Linked DNA regions of Homo sapiens: region 2 is linked to region 1. Evidence: fine-mapped expression QTL. Tissue or cell type: whole blood. Region 1 holds a variant in brackets; the other region holds the start of a gene. All regions are shown on one strand. Distances are between the middles of the regions. Region 1 holds the start of ZNF556 (zinc finger protein 556). Region 2 holds the start of ZNF555 (zinc finger protein 555).

Evidence for each region. PIP is the estimated chance that this variant, and not a neighbour inherited with it, causes the effect.
Region 2: ZNF555 starts here. The variant in region 1 is the best candidate, but not a certain one, in a credible set for the expression of ZNF555 in whole blood (INTERVAL, PIP 0.79).

Annotation. Positions count from the first base shown.
Region 1 is chr19:2,864,072-2,869,442 of GRCh38, reverse strand. It overlaps ZNF556 (zinc finger protein 556), which reads right to left and starts at 2,108. Exons shown (of 4, transcript NM_024967.3): 1 at 2,019-2,108. The coding sequence starts at 2,021. The variant G/C (reference allele first, on the strand shown) is at 2,963.
Region 2 is chr19:2,838,207-2,843,577 of GRCh38, reverse strand. ZNF555 (zinc finger protein 555) reads right to left here and starts at 2,103. Exons shown (of 4, transcript NM_152791.5): 1 at 2,003-2,103. The coding sequence starts at 2,005. RefSeq lists silencers at 1,723-1,772, 1,813-2,112, 2,333-2,522, 2,533-2,642.

The DNA.
Region 1 (5,371 bases):
GTGAGCTGAGATCGCGCCACTGCACTCCAGCGTCGGTGACAGAGCAAGACTCCGTCTCAAAAAATAAAAAATTTAAAAAAAGAGGAGATATAAAATTTCCTCATGGGCTCAAGGTGGGGCAAGACAGAGCAGGAAGAATCAAGGAAGACTAATTATTTCACACAGGAAAGCTGGAATAATGGAGTTACCAGCAACTGAGATGTAGGCGGTAATATGTGGACCAGGCTCTTGGGGAGAGGATGAGGATATACTGCAGTGCAGCTGAGAATAAGGCATTCAAGTGGACACACATGTAATAATGTCTTTAGGGGCACTGGTCACAATGGAAAAAATTTGAAAATACCCGAATAGTCACTAGCAAGCAGTGGAATTAATGAACACTAACAATATATCCCTATGAGTGAATATAAAAGAGTGATAAAGGGGCCAGGTGTGGTGGCTCACGCCTGTAATCCCAGCACTTTGGGAGGCTGAGGTGGGTGGATCAGCTGAGGTCAGGAGTTCGAGACCAGCCTGGCCAACATGGTGGAACCCCGTCTCTACTAAAAATACAAAAATTAGCTGGGTGTGGCCACACGTGCCTGTAATCCCAGCTATTCGGGAGGCTGAGGTAGGAGAATCGCTTGAACCCAGGAGGCGGAGGTTGCAGTAAGCAGAGATCGCGCCATTGCACTCCAGCCTGGGTGACAGAGCGAGGCTCCATCTGAAAAAAAAAAAAAAATTAGCTAGTCATGGTGGCACATGCTGCCTGTAATCCAAGCATTCTGGGAGGCCAAGGCGGGTGGATCACCTGAGGTCAGGAGTTGGAGACCAGCTTGGCCAACATGGTAAAACCCTGTCTCCACTAAAAATACAAAAATTAGCTGGACGTGGTGGCACACACCTGTAGTCCCAGCTGCTGGGGAGGCTGAGGCAGGAGAATCAATCGCTTGAACTCAGGAGGCGGAGGTTGCAGTGAGCCGAGATCGCGCCACTGCACTCCAGCCTGGGTGACAGAGCAAGACTCCGTTTCAAAAAATAAAAACAAAAAATAAAAGAACAGAATTATCATCTATCACAAATTCTCCATCCTGGAAAAGGAGAATAACTGATATTTTAGCGAGTTTTTGTAATTCACCAAATTATATACCAAACATTTTTTTCTTGTAGGAATGTATTCATTTCGGGGCGTGTCATAATAAAAGAGAGATTTTCTCTCTTTCTCTGCGATTCTTTTTCCCGGGAGCCCCGTCAAGGGCTAAGCCCTGGAATCCCATTTGTCATCACCGAAAATAAAACAACAGATGTGAGAAACTTAACCACACGGGCAAAAAAGGAACAGAAAATAAAAAGAAAAAAAAAAGGCACGCTAGAATTTTTAACAAATGGAATGTAAGACGAGAACTTTATTTTTTTCTGAAATTCACCTCCTTGGAAATATTTTATCTTTCAAACTCTATTATTTACTGTATGTTCCATTGACTGAAAAAATCTGAGGCTCAAGTAACCAAATCAATCTTTAGAAGGAGAGAGGCCCAGGCAGGGGCGGCTGGGCTGGAGTCCGGCCTGCGGGCCTTTGGGGTCAGGCCAGCCCGTGCCGCCACGTGGAGCGCCCGCACCACCTGTCCACCCCTCGCCCCTCCCAGGGACGTGGGCCTGGGCCCAAAGTCTGCATCCAAAGCGCATTCTGCTTTGGGGCTGTTGCACCGCCTCGCTGGGGTGAGGTTTTTTTTTTTTTTGTTTTGTTTTTTGTACTTTGGGTTAGTTTTTCTTCCAATTAACTTCGCGAGACCCCACAGGGCAGGAGTCATTTCTGCCTTTTTTTCCCCTCCATCCCAGCGTCCTGACAACTACGACTTTCCAGGGAATGAAGACTGGGGCAGGGGAGGAAACTCCCCGCAGGACCCGGGGGTGACACAGGGACAGAGGCTGCATGGGGGTTCCGGGCGGCTCCCCCGGGAGTTTCAGCGTGTTCTGGCCGCTTCCAACCCTCCCCTCCCAGGGCTCCGGCTCCGGCTCGGCTCCTGCCCTGCACTCACCATGTCCTGTCCGTTCCTGAGCTCTTTGAGGAGCTCCCTGCTCCTCGCAGCCGGTGCAGGTGAGCACGACGGGGACACCTGTGGTCACTCAGGGCAGGCCGGGTGTGCTCTGCAGGGAGGACAGCAACGCCCCGCCCCTGGGGCTGTGATTGGATGGTTCTCTTCTCTGCTCATCTCTGATTGGAGAGTTCACCAGTCACATCCCAACTCCCCTGATTGGACAGTTCTTTAGACTCTGCCCCTCCTCTTCTGGTTGGTCAGCTTGCTATCCCCTGAGCTCCCCTGATTGGGCAGTTCTTCAGGCCCCACCCCAGCTTTCCTAATTGGTCATGTTTCCACGCCCTGCCTCAGCTCCTTTGATTTGACAGGTCTCCAGGCTCTGCCCCAACCCCCCTGATTGACAGTTCTCATCCGGATGCTCCACCTCAACTCCCCTGATTGGTCAGTTCTCTAGGCCCCACCCCAGCTGCCTGATTGGTCAGTTTTCAGGTCTCGGGTCCTGCAGGCAGCAGCCCCCATCCACGGTGGTCTCCTTCCTGAAATGAAAGTGGTACTGACTTAGAGGGAAACCTGGGCCCTTGGGGTATCCACCGTAGAAAAAAGCAGCTTCTTCTGTCCTCAGTCTGTTGTCAGATTCCATGACACTGGAGGAGGTCCCCTCTCTCTCCTGACCAGTAGACACCTGGGGAGGCCCATGGGGTCAAGTGAGTGACCAACGAAAGCTTTACCATTCCCTAACTAGGGTCAGCACAATTGCTAGAACTGAACTCTTGAGCCATTAGCAATGGTCTAGCCAGCCGGGCGCGGTGGCTCATGCCTGTAATCACAGCACTTTGGGAGGCCAAGGTGGGTGGATCACCTGAGGTCAGGAGTTTGAGACCAGTGTGGCCAACATGATGAAACCCTGTCTTTACTAAAAATACAAAAAATTAGCCGGGTGTGGT[G/C]GTGGGTGCCTGTAATCCCAGCTACTCGGAGGCTAAGGGGGAAGAATCGCTTGAACCTGGAAGGCGGAGGTTGCAGTGAGCTGAGATTGCCCCACTGCACTCAGCCTAGGCAACAAGAGGGAAACTCCGTCTCAAAAACAACAACAACAACAAAAACATAGAAAACAAAACAAAACAAAAAAACCGAAAACACACTTAAAAAAAACTGTGGCAACAACTGTATCCTAGGTCAATATTTTGAGGTTAAAGCACTCTGGGGATATTTTGCCTCACAGTTTCTCAAGTAAAAATCAAGGTCACGAATATCTGTGTACCTATGAAAACTCAAACACCACAGCTGAGCGCTCAATGTGCAGGCAGATGAATAGTCTACAGGCAAATGACATATAATCAAGGAGGCATAATCCCTGGAAGCCTGTTGGTAGGGCTGAGAGCAAATAGATTTTATAGGGTCCCCGCCCACCTTTGCAGAGGCTATTCCGTATACTGTGATCACGGAAGCCACTTAAATGCAAATATTCCTTACCAATCCCACCAGACGTTCTCCTGCTGAGCCACAATACAGGGTTTCACCAAGACCCGCCCTTCCCTTGGGGTTACAGATGCTACTGACAGTGATCAAGGTGCTCAGTTCTTTTCTCAAACGACACTGTAGCGAGATTGATAAGGAATCAGAGAGACCGATGGGGTTCAGGAGGATATTTATTATTTAGCTGCACCAGCCCAGTCCGATTAACACCCAAAGGACTGAGCCCTGAACAAAGAGTTAAGTTACCTTTGAAGCATTTTGTGGGGCCGGGGGAGATCTGTGCAGGGGGAAGCATATTACAGAAGCGAGAGACAAAGAGAGTTATTCAATTAATTGAGACGTGCATTACATCATTTCTTACTTTTCAAGGCAAAACATGTTTTGCAACTTGAGTTTATCTGTCTAGTGAACTTGCAGCTGCACAACTAGGGAAACAGGGCCTTCACAATGCCTGGGAAGGGAGGAGAGATAAGGCTCACTAGCCACAGAAAAACAGGCAGTTAATTTTTAAAAGACTCCAGCTCTTTCTTGTTCTCAGGGGGAATTGGGTTTTCTTACATACAACTGAGTTTCTGCTTACACATTCTTTAATCTGTTTTAATTCCTGTTCCAACACAACACTGGGCTCTTTTATTTATTTATTTATTTATTTATTTTATTTTAATTTTTTGAGATGGAGTCTCGCTTAGTCACCAGGCTGGAGTGTAGTGGTGCAATCTCAGCTCACTGCAACCCCTACCTCCCGGGTTCAAGCGGTTCTCCTGCCTCAGCATCCCCAGTAGCTGGGACTACAGGTGCCCGCCACTACGCCCAGCTAATTTTTGTATTTTTAGTAGAGACAGGGTTTCACCATGTTGGTCAGGATGGTCTTGGTCTCTTGACCTCGTGATCCACCTGTCTCAGCCTCCCAAAGTGCTGGGATTACAGGCATGAGCCACCATGCCTGGCCAACGCTGGGCTCTTGAACAAGGCGTTCAAAGCAACTTTCTGCTCTCTTATACTCTCGGGCTAGAGGCCTCCTAGAACTGATGGCTCAAACAAACCTTGCTGACATTACAGACCACACATGGTCTTCTAAACGGGTCTTCTCCACTGTGTGCAGCTTTACTTAGGCTCGACCCCAGCCTTTAGGGCCCCCTACTTTGTCCTGATCATCAGACTTACTGGCACCTTAGAGTACAACCCATAACACATGCTTCTTTCTTTCTTTTTCTTTTTCTTTCTTTTTTTTTTTTTTTTTTTTTTTGAGACAGAGTCACGCTCTGTTGCCCAGGCTGGAGTGCAGTGGCACGATCTGGGCTCACTGCAAGTTCTGCCTCCAGGGTTCACGCCATTCTCCTGCCTTAGCCTCCCGAATAGCTGGGACTACAGGCGCCTGCCACCATGCCCGGCTAATTTTTTGTGTGTTTTTAATAGAGACAGGGTTTCACCGTGTTAGCCAGGATGGTCTCGATCTCCTGACCTCGTGATCCGCCCGCCTCAGCCTCCCAAAGCGCTGGGATTACAGGCGTGAGCCGCCGCGCCCGGCCACCATCTTTAGTTTCTACAGGAGAACTACACATCCGATGCTTCTAGCTTCCTTGGCTATTGTTTTAGGCTACCGTTACCTTCTTGCTTATCAAGTTGCATATTTACTTCTTGGGGCTAACTAGGTGACTGAAATTTACCTTGAAGAAAAGCAAGATTGTTCTTTATTTCTATGCCTGGGAGATCCACAGGCCGTGAAGAGGGAGTCCCTGCTCCATCTCACACCCACTCCCAAACCTCCTCTTGAGACAAGTGTGCTAATTTTCTGCTCATTGCACATACTTTTTGGGCCACCACGGGCACTGCCTTAGGCACACATGATGTCATCCTGTCAACTCAAACCATGAAGCCAT
Region 2 (5,371 bases), 26 kb after region 1:
TATCTGCAACATGTTTCGTGGCAATGTATTCATTTTTCTGCACGTATGGTGGAAAGGAGATTTTCTCTGTTTCTCTGAGACTCTTCTCCCCAGTAACATTTTGAAGTTTAGGCCCTGGAATCCTATTTATTGTCATTCAAAAGAAAAGAACAAGGCTGGTCGAGGAGGGAGAATCACCTGAGCTCAGGAGTTCGAGACCAGCCTGGGTAACAGAATGAGACCCCATCCCTAGAAACAAAAAAATACAAAAGCTTAGGCATGGCGGCACACACCTGGAGTCCCTGTGTTCAGAAGGCTGAGGCAGGAAGATTGCTTGAGCCCAGGAGGTGGAGGCTGCAGTGAGCTGTGATCGCACCAGTGCACTCCAGCATGGGCAACAGAGCTCCCAAAAAAATAATAGTAATAAAAGAAAACAGAAAATAACAGATCTGAGAAACGACACACACTCCAGGGAATGTTTAACAAATGGAATGTAAGACACAGATTTTAATTTTTTTCCTGAAATTCACCCCGTTGGAAGTTTTTTTTTTTTTTTGAGACGGAGTCTCGCTCTGTCACCCAGGCTGGAGTGCAATGGCGCGTTCTCAGCTCACCGCAACCTCCGCCTTCTGCGTTCAAGTGATTTTCCCGCCTCAGCCTCCCGAGTAGCTGGGACTACAGGCACCCGCCACCACGCCCAGCTAATTTTTGTATTTCTAGCAGAGACGGGGTTTCTCCATGTTGGCCAGGCTGGTCCCCAACTCCTGACCTCAAGTAATCTGCTCCCCTCGGCCTGTCACAGTGCTGGGATGACAGGCTTGAGCCACCGCGCCCGGCCTGGAAATATTTTATCTTCCAACTTCTACTAATTAAATGTACGTTTCACTTCCTAAAAACTGCTGACTCGAAAAAAGGAAAATCTTTTCACAGTGACAAACCCAGGGAGGGGTCAAGTCTGGCCAGGCTACCACGACGGACGCCCTCCCACCCCCAACTCAGGTGTTGCCTCAGCAAGGAATCCCATTGCTAGTACTCAAAACAGAACTGAGAAACGTCTTCAAATCCACACTTTCTAGGGAACCGTGAAAGAATATATTTCCGTGGTTTTAGCCCCCTCGTTTGCAGTCAGTTGCTACAGCAGTCCGAGGACACTAATGCACCAGCCTCCCGGGCGTCCCCGCTGTGGGTCTGCGTGCGTTTGCTTTTGGGGTCCTCGCTCTCCCTTGTTTCTCTAGTCTTTTCAGTTACTTTTCTTCCTTGTGTGTGAGAGCCCAGGGACCAGGAACCCTTGTTTTTTTTCCCCTTACCTACCCCAGGCATCTTGGGGTCAGAGGGGACAAGAAGTCCTCAAGAAGGAAAACCGGGACTCAGGGGAGGAAACCTCGCACGCCCCAGGGGCTGCCTTTGCAGGTGGGGGCGTCTCCGCCCCCGCCGAGGCCCCACCGCTCCCGGGCTGTCCCGGGAGGAACCCAGGGTCCCCCAGAGACCGCGGCCGGAGGCGCGGGGCCTCCAAGGAGCTGAGCCGCGGGAGCGCGAGCGGAGGCGGCACCGACCAGGGACCCGCACCCCAGGAGGCACCGCGGCGTCGGCCCCAGGGCGGGTCCCGGGGGAGCCTGGACCGCACCTCGGGGTCTCGGGCGACTCTGCCTCCCGCGGCCCGGGGGTCCCGAAGCCGCAGCGAAACGCTCCGAGGCGTCGCGGCCCCGGGCGGGGCGTGGGGGGTCGGGAGCGCAGGGACGCGGGGACCCCGGGACGACGGGGACGGAGTCGGGCTCCGGGCGCCGCTCCCCGCTCTGCAGCCTTGGGGCCAGAGGCGGGCGGGGACCCGGAGCTCGGAGCGCCCTAGCCGCGACCTCAGCGCGGGAGGCGGGGCCGGGCGGGACCCCCGGGGCCCAGGCTCCCGTCCTGCGCCGCCCTCGCCGGGGCCGCCCCCCGCGTCCCTCAGCTCCCCCCAAGCCGCGGTCTCGGGCGGTCGCCGGTTCCTGCTGCCCCGCACCGGGATCCTCTCCTGCGCCACACTCACCATGTCCCGGGGCGATTTCTTCGCTACCGGCGCAGGTGAGCGCGACAGGAACCGGGACGCCAGGGACCGCTAGGGGCAGGCGGGGCACTCACGGCTAGGACAGAGGCGTCCCGTCCCAGGGGCCTGATTAGACAGAGCTCGGGAAGCCGCGCTTCTGATTGGACAGTGCTGCCAACGTCGGCGACTCTGATTGGAGAATTCCCCAGTCCGTCCCCTGGCGCTGTAAATTGGGCAGTTCCCCGGATTCCGATTGGGCGTCCCTCATTGGATACTTGTCTCGGCCCCGCCCCCGCCCGTCCTGACTGGGTAGTTCCCTAGGGCCCACCCCCTGCCGGTGAGTGACGGGAGCGTTGCGAACACGCGTGGCTGTCCCGCCCTGCGGGGACACTGGCTTCTGGGCGAACTGGTTTCAGCCCGGGGCGGAATCGCCCTCTCCCCGCAGTTCGGGCGCCCCGCCCGCGTCCTCCTCCGGGACGGGCGTGGGAACTCCAGACTAGTTTCCTCACGAGGCGACCCCTTGTCCGGACAGGAGGTGGATGCAAGCGGGCGGCCCGGGCCTGGCAGGGCGAACGGGGGCTGGGCGCCGGGTCCGAAGGGCCGAGACCTACGTGGGGGCGGGACCCGCAGACGTGACGTCATCGCGCTGCGGGCGACATGGAGACCCCGCCCAGGGGGCTGCGAATCCGGAGACCCGGTCTGGGGGAGGCCGAACCCAAAGCCTGGCAGGGGGCAGGAGCTTTGCTCAAATCAACCAGAAGATATGAGATGTTCATTAAAACCCTCACATTTGGCTGGGCGCAGTGGCTCACGCCTGTAATCCCAGCACTTTGGGAGACCGAGGTGGACGGATCATCTGAGTTCAGGAGTTTGAGACCATCGTGGCCAATATGGTGAAACCCTTTCTCTACTAAAAATACAGAAATCAGCCCGGCGTGGTGCCGGGCGCCTGTAATCTCAGCTACTGGGGATGCTGGGGCAGGAGAATTGCTTGAACCCGAGAGGTGGAGGTTGTAGTGACCCGAGATCGCCCCACTGCAGTCTAGCCTGGGCGACAGAGTGAGACTCCATATTAAAAAACAAAAAAACTCTCAAGTTCATATTTTAAACTCTAAGGAAAATGTTTTCAGATCATTTTTTTAAGTACATCCCCCCAAAATTTGGAAGATTGAAAAGCTGGCCGGGCGCTGTGGCTCACGCCTGTAATCCCAGCACTTTGGGAGGCCGAGGCGGGCGGATCACCTGAGGTCAGGAGTTCAAGACCAGCCTGCCCAACATGGCAAAACCCTGTCTCTACTAAAAATACAAAATTAGCCGGGCGTGGTGGCGCGCACCTGTAATCCCAGCTAGGGAGGCTGAGGCAAGAGAATCGCTTGAGGCCGGGCACGGTGGCTCACGCCTGTAATCCCAGCACTTTGGGAGGCCGAGGCGGGCGGATCACGAGGTCAGGAGATCGAGACCATCCTGGCTAACACGGTGAAACCCCGTCTCTACTAAAAAATACAAAAAAATTAGCCAGGCCTGGTGGCGGGTGCCTGTAGTCCCAGCTACTCGGGAGGCTGAGGCGGGAGAATGGCGTGAACCCGGGAGGCAGAGGTTGCAGTGAGCCGAGATCGCGCCACTGCACTCCACCACTCCAGCCTGGGTGACAAAGCGAGACTCCGTCTCAAAAACAAACAAACAAACAAACAACAACAACAAAAACAAAAAGAATCGCTTGAACCCAGGGAGGCAGAGGTTGCAGTGAGTCAAGATCATTCCACTGCACTCCAGCCTGGGGGACACAGCAAGACTCCGTCTCAAAAAAAAAAAAAAAAAAAAAAGGAAGTCTATAATATTGCACAACAGGAACGTATCTAACGCCACTGAACTTTAGACTTAAAAATGATGAACATGGTAAATATTTGTTATTTGTATTTTACTACAATTTTTAGATGTTATATTTAAAACAGAAAAGGCTATATTTCTAAGGATATTGAATCCCTATTTTAACTGATATAAGAAAAACACGCAAAAGTTTAAATGAATTGGATTGAACCTTAGGAGGGAAGTGTTTTTTTTTTAAATTTTTGGTTTTTTCAGTCTTGCTCTGTCACCCAGGCTGGAGTGCAATGGCAGGATCCCGACTCACTGTAAACTCCACCTCCCGGGTTCAAGTGATTATCGTACCTCAGCCTTCCGAGTAGGTGAGACTACAGACCTGCCCCGCCACACCCAGCTAATTTTTTTGTTTTTTGTTTTTTTGAGACGCAGTTTCGCTCTTGTTGCCCAGGCTGGAGTGCAATGGCGAGATCTCGGCTCACTGCAACCTCTGCCTCCCAGGTTCAAGCGATTCTCCTGGTTCAGCTTCCCGAGTAGCTGGGACTACAGGCACCTGCCATCATGCCTGGCTAATTTTGTATTTTTAGTAGAGACGGGGTTTCTCCGTGGTGGTCGGGCTGGTCTCGAACTCCCAACCTTATGTGATCCACCCGCCTCGGCCTCCCAAAGTGCTGGGATTACAGGTGTGAGCCACCACGCCTGGCCTACTAATTTTTATTTTTTTAGTAGAGATGAGGTTTCACCATGTTGGCCAGGCTGGTCTCAAACTCTTGACCTCAGGTGATCCACCTGCCTCGGACTTGCAAAGTGCTTGGATTACAGGTGTGAGCCACCACACCCAGCCTTCAATTTTTTTTAAAAAAAGGAAAAACGATTGTGATAGGCCTGAAAACACTGAATACACTTAATAGACAGGGGCTGAAAACCAAACACAGTTAATGGTTATTCATTTCAGAAAACTCCATAGCTTAAGTGGTTGTTCAAATTCTGATATTGACATTTCATTTAGAAACAATTTTTAAAATTTATTTTTATCTTTCCTAGGAAGGTTTTACACACTTTTATAAAAATTAATGTTTAGAGGACTGACATAGGAAAGCAGCTTCCAGTTAAAAATAGTGTGCCCGGGCTCGGTGGCTCACGCCTCTAATCCCAGCACTTTGGGAGGCTGAGGTGGGTGGACAACCTGAGGTGAGGAGTTTGAGACCAGCCTGGCCAACATGGTGAAAGCCCCATCTCTAATAAAAATACAAAAAAAATTAGCCGGGCGTGGTGGCGCATGCCTGTAGTCCCAGCTGCTTGGGAGCTGAGGCAGGAGAATCGCTTGAACCCAGAGGCAGAGGTTGCAGTGAGCCGAAATCTCACCATTGCACTCCTGCCTGGGCAACACAGTGAGACTCCATCTCAAAAAATAAAATATAATTGCTGGAGGGAGATAACAAGACTGAAAACAGTACAGTCAGGAGACTTCTAAGTCAACCCTTCTCAAGAATATGCTGGAAGTTACAGATGCTTTCCCCAAAAAACACATCAATGCACCAGCACACAAAG